Homo sapiens: one gene and its partner. The protein of the gene in region 2 purifies or fractionates together with the protein of the main gene of each other region. This does not show direct contact. Each region holds a gene or a part of one and is shown on either strand. Other genes may lie near its edges.

Region 1 (3,350 bases), on a different chromosome or scaffold from region 2:
TTATTCTAGCTAATAAGCAACAGACTTGGAAAGGAAAAGGTCCTGACAAAGCTAAGCCTCCCGTTCAGGTTTCCTGACTCGTGAATTCAGTGCTGCTGCCACTACACGATGCATGCTCTTTGTATCAAGGGTGAGACAGCATTACACATACATAGAAAATTATCTATTTAAACTCTATTTGAACTTTTGATGAGTTTGTCTCCCCCTCCCCCACTCCTTTTCAGAATAACTTGACGTTTACAGGTACCATCAGTGGTGATGTCTGTGTGTGGAAAGATCACATATTGTGTAGAATCGTGGCGAGAGCTCACAACGGGCCTGTGTTTGCCATGTACACCACCCTGCGAGATGGACTTATCGTGACTGGGGGAAAGGAAAGGCCGTGAGTCCTCTTTCTTTTCACAGAATATTTATGCATTTGTGACCTACCTGAGGTTTGCAGTTAATTATTCTAGTTGTTTCTAGGCTACACAGAGTGTCCTCTCCGACCTTCCTCCTCATATGCTTCTCCTTTATTACCTTTTATGTGCCTTCTATTTGATTCTCATTTCTGGTCTTAATTCACTTCCAATTTTTTTCATGTTGGGGTGATACTTTTTCTGAGGTGTGGATAGGTAGTTGTCCTACAAGTTGAGTTACTTTTCTTAATGTCTGTATGCCTGTGTATGATTTGCTGAGTAGGAGGCCCATGGGGGAATCTGGAGCCAGGGTTGTATTTTGACTGCCTGCTCTCTTTTTGTTCAGAATGGATTCTAAGGAGTAGAATGCACATTGTTGCTTTAGAAAAGGATGAGGGAACTAGAGAGAACTGCCTTGTTTCCTTTTGCTTGAGGCAAATTTAAACTGTTTTATACAAGACCTCAAAATTTGAGAAGAGGTCTCTTCTGAGTGATTTTCAAATCTCCCAACAGTAACCAGATACTTATGATTTGATTTGTCACCAACATAGTCATATGCATGTTGAAACATGACATGTAGGCCAGGCACAGTGGCTCACACCTGTAATCTTATCACTTTGGGAGGCTGAGGCAGGTGGATCGCTTGAGCCCAGGAGTTCAAGACCAGCCTGGGCAACATGGTGAAACCCCATCGCTATAAAAAACAACAATTAGCCGGGTGTGGTGGCACATGCCTGTAGTCCCTGCTACTCAGGAGGCTGAGGTGGGAGGATCACTTGAGCCTGGGGAGGTCAAGGCTTTAGTGAGCTGTGATGGTGCCACTGCACTCCAGCCTGGGTGACAGAGTGAGACCCCATTTAAAAAACAAAAACAAAAACAAAAAAAAATGTGACATATAGTTGACTAAGAAGTACATTTCAATACAGGATTGAAAGAACCCACATATGTTAATTAAACACAAGCGCAGAATTTGTGCCTTTTACATAAAGGAAGAATGCACATAGGCATGCTTTCAGACAAGCAATTCATCTAGCAGAAAAGGAAGGAATACATTTTTCAGCCCTTCCAGGAATAAAATCCATAAATGGGCTCTATTTCGTCCTCCAACACTTGTATTTCCCACGTCATTTACTCCTGCACACCCCCACTCACTAGAAGCCTGCTAAACTGTTCCAGTGAGATATTTTAACACCTGATAGGGAATAAATATGCTTCTGTTTTGGCCTTCAAAAATAAGCTCTGGGCCAGTTGCAGTGGCTCACGCCTGTAATCCCAACACTTTGGGAGGCCGAGGTGGGCGGATCACGAGGTCAGGAGTTTGGGATCAGCCTGGCCAATATGGTGAAACTCCATCTCTACTAAAAATACAAAAATTAGCCAGGCATGGTGCCTGTAATCCCAGCTACTTGGGAGGCTGAAGGAGAAGAATCGCTTGAACCTGGGAGGCACAGGTTGCAGTGAGCCGAGATCACACCACTGCACTCCAGGCCAGGTGACAGAGCGACACTCTGTCTCAAAAAAATAAATAAATCAACTCTGTAGCATAGCATTTGTAATTCTATTATTTTGCCTTACATTTCCATTATCCTTTTAATAAAATTGTTTTTTTACATCTTCCTAATCAAGAAGTATTATGAGGCCAGGCACAGTGGCTCATACCTGGAATCCCAGCACTTTGGGAGGCCGAGGCAGGCAGATCACCTGAGGTCAAGGTATTTGAGACCAGCCTGGCCAACATGGTGAAACCCCATCTCTACTAAAAATACAGAAATTAGCTGGGTGTGGTGGTGCACACCTGTAATGCTAGCTACTCGGGAGGCTGAGGTAGGAGAATCGCTTGAACCTGGGAGGCAGAGGTTGCAATAAGCCTAGATCATGCCACTGCACTCAAGCCTGGGAGACAGAGCGAGACTACATCTTAAAAAAAAAAAAAAAAGTATTATGAGAGAGGATAATGTATTGTAATGTATTGTAGAGGCTAAATAAAATTATGCTCATGTCAGAAAAAAAGAGTATTTCTCAAAATAAAATTCACTGAAACTGGATGTTTATTTTGACTGAGATATAGTATATCCTCAAATTGCCATAGAAAGTTTACAAGAATATTAGAGGTAAATTATAAATATCAGGGCCTTTTTAAAAAAAAAAGATTCTGCTTATAACTTGGTATTTGTTTATAATAAAAATTATAGTAGCCAATAATGAACACTTACTCTGGCTTGGTTATTTACTTAGGTCAAAAGAAGGAGGAGCGGTTAAACTGTGGGATCAGGAACTGAGGCGGTGCCGTGCCTTCAGGCTTGAGACAGGACAAGCCACAGATTGTGTTCGTTCTGTGTGCAGAGGCAAAGTAAGATGTTCCATGAGCTGATACAGTGCAGCAGAAAACAGAAAGTGGTTATTACTGTGATTCCCTCACCCTTTGCAGCCTAATGAACAATACTTAATAATGCATAACGATGGATTTGCTTGCCAACATTACTCTGTCTTTGCTGCTTTCTTTGCCAAAGTTAGCACCAGTGTGGTGCATAAGCTAGGAAGCTATTCTGTCTAAATACTGTATGTAAACCTCCAATATTTTCTAGAATCTGCCAATTTAACAACTCTAGTAGACATAATTGAAAGCCCTTGGCAGTTGACTCATATTAGGACAGCTGTCTCCATTTTTTAAAAAAACACACATTCCCTAGATAAAACGTGCAGTAAACAAACAATGAAATACTACTCAGCCATAAAAAATAATGAAATTCTGTCATTCTTGGTGGCAACATGGATGAGACTGGAGGACATGATGTGAAGTGAAATAAGCCAGGCACAGAAAGATAAATACATGTTCTCACTCCTGTGCAGAAACTAAAAAAGTTGATCCCACAGAGGTGGAGAGTAGAATAGTGGTTACTGGAGGCGGACAAGGGGGAGGGGGAGGGGGATAGGGAAGGACTGGTTAAAGGA
Region 2 (3,820 bases):
TTCTTTCTGGATGCATCTACAGCTTAGGTTCCTTTAGGTGTGAAAAGTATGTCCCCATATAGGATAGGTTGGGTTATAAAGGTGTCATTTCCTATTCTTTGCTGCATCTTGAACAGCTGACCATGGTGTGGTGTCCTTTGATAGTGTTGTTTGACAGACAAAGGGCTATCTGGCGATATGCTTGGCATTTTCCTGGGGAATGTAACTTTATGGACGTCTCAACTGAGGCTGACATGTCACAAGATATTGAGCATATTTTCAGGCACTTAGGATTGGTTTTAGAAATAAACAGATCTGCTTCTTACAGCTACTTCATCTGTTCCAGCTCCAAAGACAACAGGCCCTCCCTCTGCCCTCCCGTCTGTGAGCTCCCTGCCCAGCACCACCTCCTGCACTGCACTTCTGCCGTCCACATCCCAGCACACTGGCGACCTGACTAGCAGCCCTCTCTCTCAGCTTAGCAGGTATGGGGAAGGTGTGGGCCCAAAGTGAGAAGTACCTTGGGGCAAGTCCTGGAGCTCCTGTAGAAGGTTGCTTTCATGAACAGAGCACACTTGTTGTCTCTGACGTGATGTCCTGGGCTTTTGCATTACGACTGTAGCTTAGGTTTTGGCCAGGTTGTTCCTTAAAACCACCAGATATGGAAACCTTGCCTGCTTGTACCGCCTCTGCTGGCACAGAGCACTGGGTCCCCTGGGAGTAGGGTGAGGCCAGCAGCTCCCTCCTACCTGTCTTCACCCTCCAGAGGGTGCCTGAGCCTAGCCTCTCTGGGCATCGCTGGGCCCATGTCACTGAGGTGGAATGAGAATGATGGATTTCTGAGCAGGTGTCTGACTTGAACTTTCCATGGCTGAAGAAACGATGTTATTAGAACAAGGTGTAGGAAAATGGGTGGCGTTGCTACCTGTGTCTTCTGAGGAGTGTTCTCCATCACTCTTTAGCTAGGAGCAAAAGTGGATTTGATGGGAATTGGCATGTGGAGTTGAGCATAGGAACTTTGATCCCTCGTTCACAGATTGAATGGGATTGTCAAGGATGACCGTGTTCTTAGTGCAACTCTGTCTTCACTTTTCGCATCTGAGGAGCAAATGGATGTCGTTGAGGGAAGCTGGCTCTGGAGTTTTCCAGACCTCATGGCGAGTCATTCCCGTCCACCAGGACCCCATCACTGGGCTCTGTGGGGATAAGGAATGAGGATGGGTCTGAAGCCGGTCCTGTGCTAGGGACTATGATAAGTTTGAATCTAGCTCACTGACCCACGTGCGTCTTGTTCATCTGGAGTCACTTGTTCAGGTGGACATACGGCGCTCTGTTTTGTCTTCTAGTTCGCTCTCCAGCCACCAGAGCAGCCTCTCTGCACATGCAGCCCTCTCCTCGAGCACGTCACACACAGTAAGTGTCTGCGCGGCTTCCTCTTCCTCCGCCATGCTTGGGGAGCCTGGAGCTTAGTCACATGCAGCTGGGGCTTCAGTCTGATTTTTAGTGTCTGATAATCTAGAGTTGCTTGGCTGAAATGTCTTGATGGCATGATCTGGTTCGAGCTTCTGATTTCCTGGGCACCATCTGGGGACATCTTGCTTTCTAAGTTTGTAGCGCCTGGGAAGAATCATTGCTCCAGACCTTATCTGTCATTGGCAGGAGTGTCAGGTGGTGACCTTGCTCCCAGGAATTTGCTGTTTGATCTTTCCTCGTGCCTTCTTTCCTGACTCAGACGCAGAGATTGCAAGAAGGTCAATGTTGGAGAAGGGAGTCTAGATGGTGGAGGGCAGGAGTGGAAGCAAACATGCACTGCCGAGAAGCCAGGCAGGAGGGCTGGAGTCGGCGCGCCAGCTTTAATTTTCCTCATATGCCAAAGAGTAGCCCTAGATTATGGTTATTGAGGTGTGGCTCAGTGGGTCGTGGAGCCGTGAGCATGGCTTTCAGTGGTAGGAGTCAGCCAGATTGTGGTGGGTTGCGGAGTGAATGGTAGTGAGATGGAGAGGAGGGAGGAGGATTGTAGAGGGCATGCAATGAAAACTTAAGAGAGGCTGGAGCCTCTATTGGGAGGATAGAAAGGTGCCTGGATTAACAAAAAGTGCATGCTCCTGGACAACAGGAGGTGTTGGGCGAGGTTGGAGTAGGCAGGTCCACAGGCTGGGAGGAAGGATTAGGGTGCAGACGAATGGAGGAGGCAGGAAACTGATGAACTTGGTGTCCTCTGAAGAAGACAGCAGCTCACCAGCAGAGTGAGGTGGTGGAAAAGGGACATCCTGTCCTTTCCTCTGGATCTGGCTAATGCTGTGGCTTTCATACTCTAGTGTTCCAAGTCAAACCTTACACAGAATCTTTTATCATAAAACACACAAACTGCCACTTTCAAAGGAGAGCATAGTGTGGACACCTCTGCCTGTCCCTCTGCCCCTGCCCTCTGTGGCTCATGGGAGTGGTGAGCTGACCTCAGCAGGAGTGCCGTGGAGCTGTCCTCTGTGTCCGTGCCACTGCTGCCTGGGAGCCCAGTGCTCCTGCACTCATGGGGAGCTGCACTCTCCATCTCCTCAAAAAAAAACCTCCAGACCATGTATTCCAGCCTGCCACAGCCAGAATCGTCTCATCCAGTGGGTCCCATACTTTGTCAGCATGACAGAACTGTGACATTGCTAATACAGTTGTCCCTCCATATATGCAGGGGATTCATTCCAGGACCACTGCATACACCAAAATCTGCACATTCTCAAGTCCCACAGTTGCCCCTGTGGAACCCACCTATAGGAAAAGTCAGCCTTCCAAATATGGGTGTTTTCAAATTATGTATGCGTGCATTGGGTTGAAAAAGAAATCTGCCTGTAAGTGGACCCATGCATTTCAAGCCTGTGTTGTTCAGGGGTCAACTGTTTGTTCATAATATTTCATCTGAAAAGTTATGGAAAGATAGACAATGAAAAGTTTTTCTGTCTCTCATCTACTTGGCTCTACCCTTACATTTTCTCCATCCTTTTAATAAATAAAAGTCAAAACACGCAGTGCATACATGTAGTCATTTCCCCATTATCATCCGCTTTTTTTTTTTTTTTTTTTTTTTGAGATGCAGTCTCACTCTGTCGCCTAGGCTGGAGTGCAATGGCGCAATCTCAGCTCACTGCAACCTCCACTTCCCGGGTTCAAGCGATCCTCCTGCCTCAGTCTCCTGAGTAGCTGGGGTTACAGGCGCATACCACCATGCCCGGATAATTTTTGTATTTTTAGTAGAGACGGGATTTCACTATGTTGGTCAGACTGGTCTCAAACTCCTGACCTCGTAATCCACCCGCCTCGGCCTCCCAAAGTGGTGGGATTACAGGCGTGAACCACCGCGCCCGGCCATCATCTGCCCTTTTTATTCTTTTTCTCTTGTTACATAAATGAGAGTATTTTATGTACAGTGTCCTTCAACTTTTTTTTCCCCACTTGTGTATCCCCACAAGTGTATCTTGATGTTTCCATGTTGAAACTTAAGGGTTTTTTGTTGTTGTTGTTGTTGTTTCCCCACAGTTCTGCTTTATGATGTTATTTAAGGTTATTTAAGCAGCCGTCCATTTAGGGTCGTTTTCAGTCTTGATACCACAGAGAATGTTGCATTTGATAACCTACATATGTTGTTTCATGTGTATAGCTGTATGTAGCGGGTCAGTACGTGATGTGGAACAGCAAGGCATTTATGATTTTATACACATTTGCAGATTGCCCCGCATAGTGATTCAACCCTGTTTACCTCCCACTGGCGGTGAATGAAATATCCTATTACACCATGGCATCCTCAAAATGGTGTTATTAAACATTTGTATTTCCTTAATATGTTAGCAGA

What was found.
Region 1: the proteins of UBAP2 (region 2) and ZC3H14 fractionate together in Homo sapiens (co-fractionation; one large-scale study listed by BioGRID). This does not show direct contact.

The regions. Positions count from the first base shown.
Region 1 is NC_000014.9:88,622,002-88,625,351, reverse strand, and holds part of ZC3H14 (zinc finger CCCH domain-containing protein 14), read right to left. Parts: 3' UTR 2,749-3,350; coding exon of another isoform or gene 2,634-2,748; 3' UTR 383-2,633; coding exon of another isoform or gene 225-382; 3' UTR 1-224. Other genes in the region: EML5 (echinoderm microtubule-associated protein-like 5), read left to right, coding at 225-382, 2,634-2,748. UniProt on the Homo sapiens protein: RNA-binding protein involved in the biogenesis of circular RNAs (circRNAs), which are produced by back-splicing circularization of pre-mRNAs.
Region 2 is NC_000009.12:33,930,134-33,933,953, reverse strand, and holds part of UBAP2 (ubiquitin-associated protein 2), read left to right. Parts: intron 1-325; coding exon 326-464; intron 465-1,325; coding exon 1,326-1,392; intron 1,393-3,820. UniProt on the Homo sapiens protein: Recruits the ubiquitination machinery to RNA polymerase II for polyubiquitination, removal and degradation, when the transcription-coupled nucleotide excision repair (TC-NER) machinery fails to resolve DNA damage. May promote the degradation of ANXA2.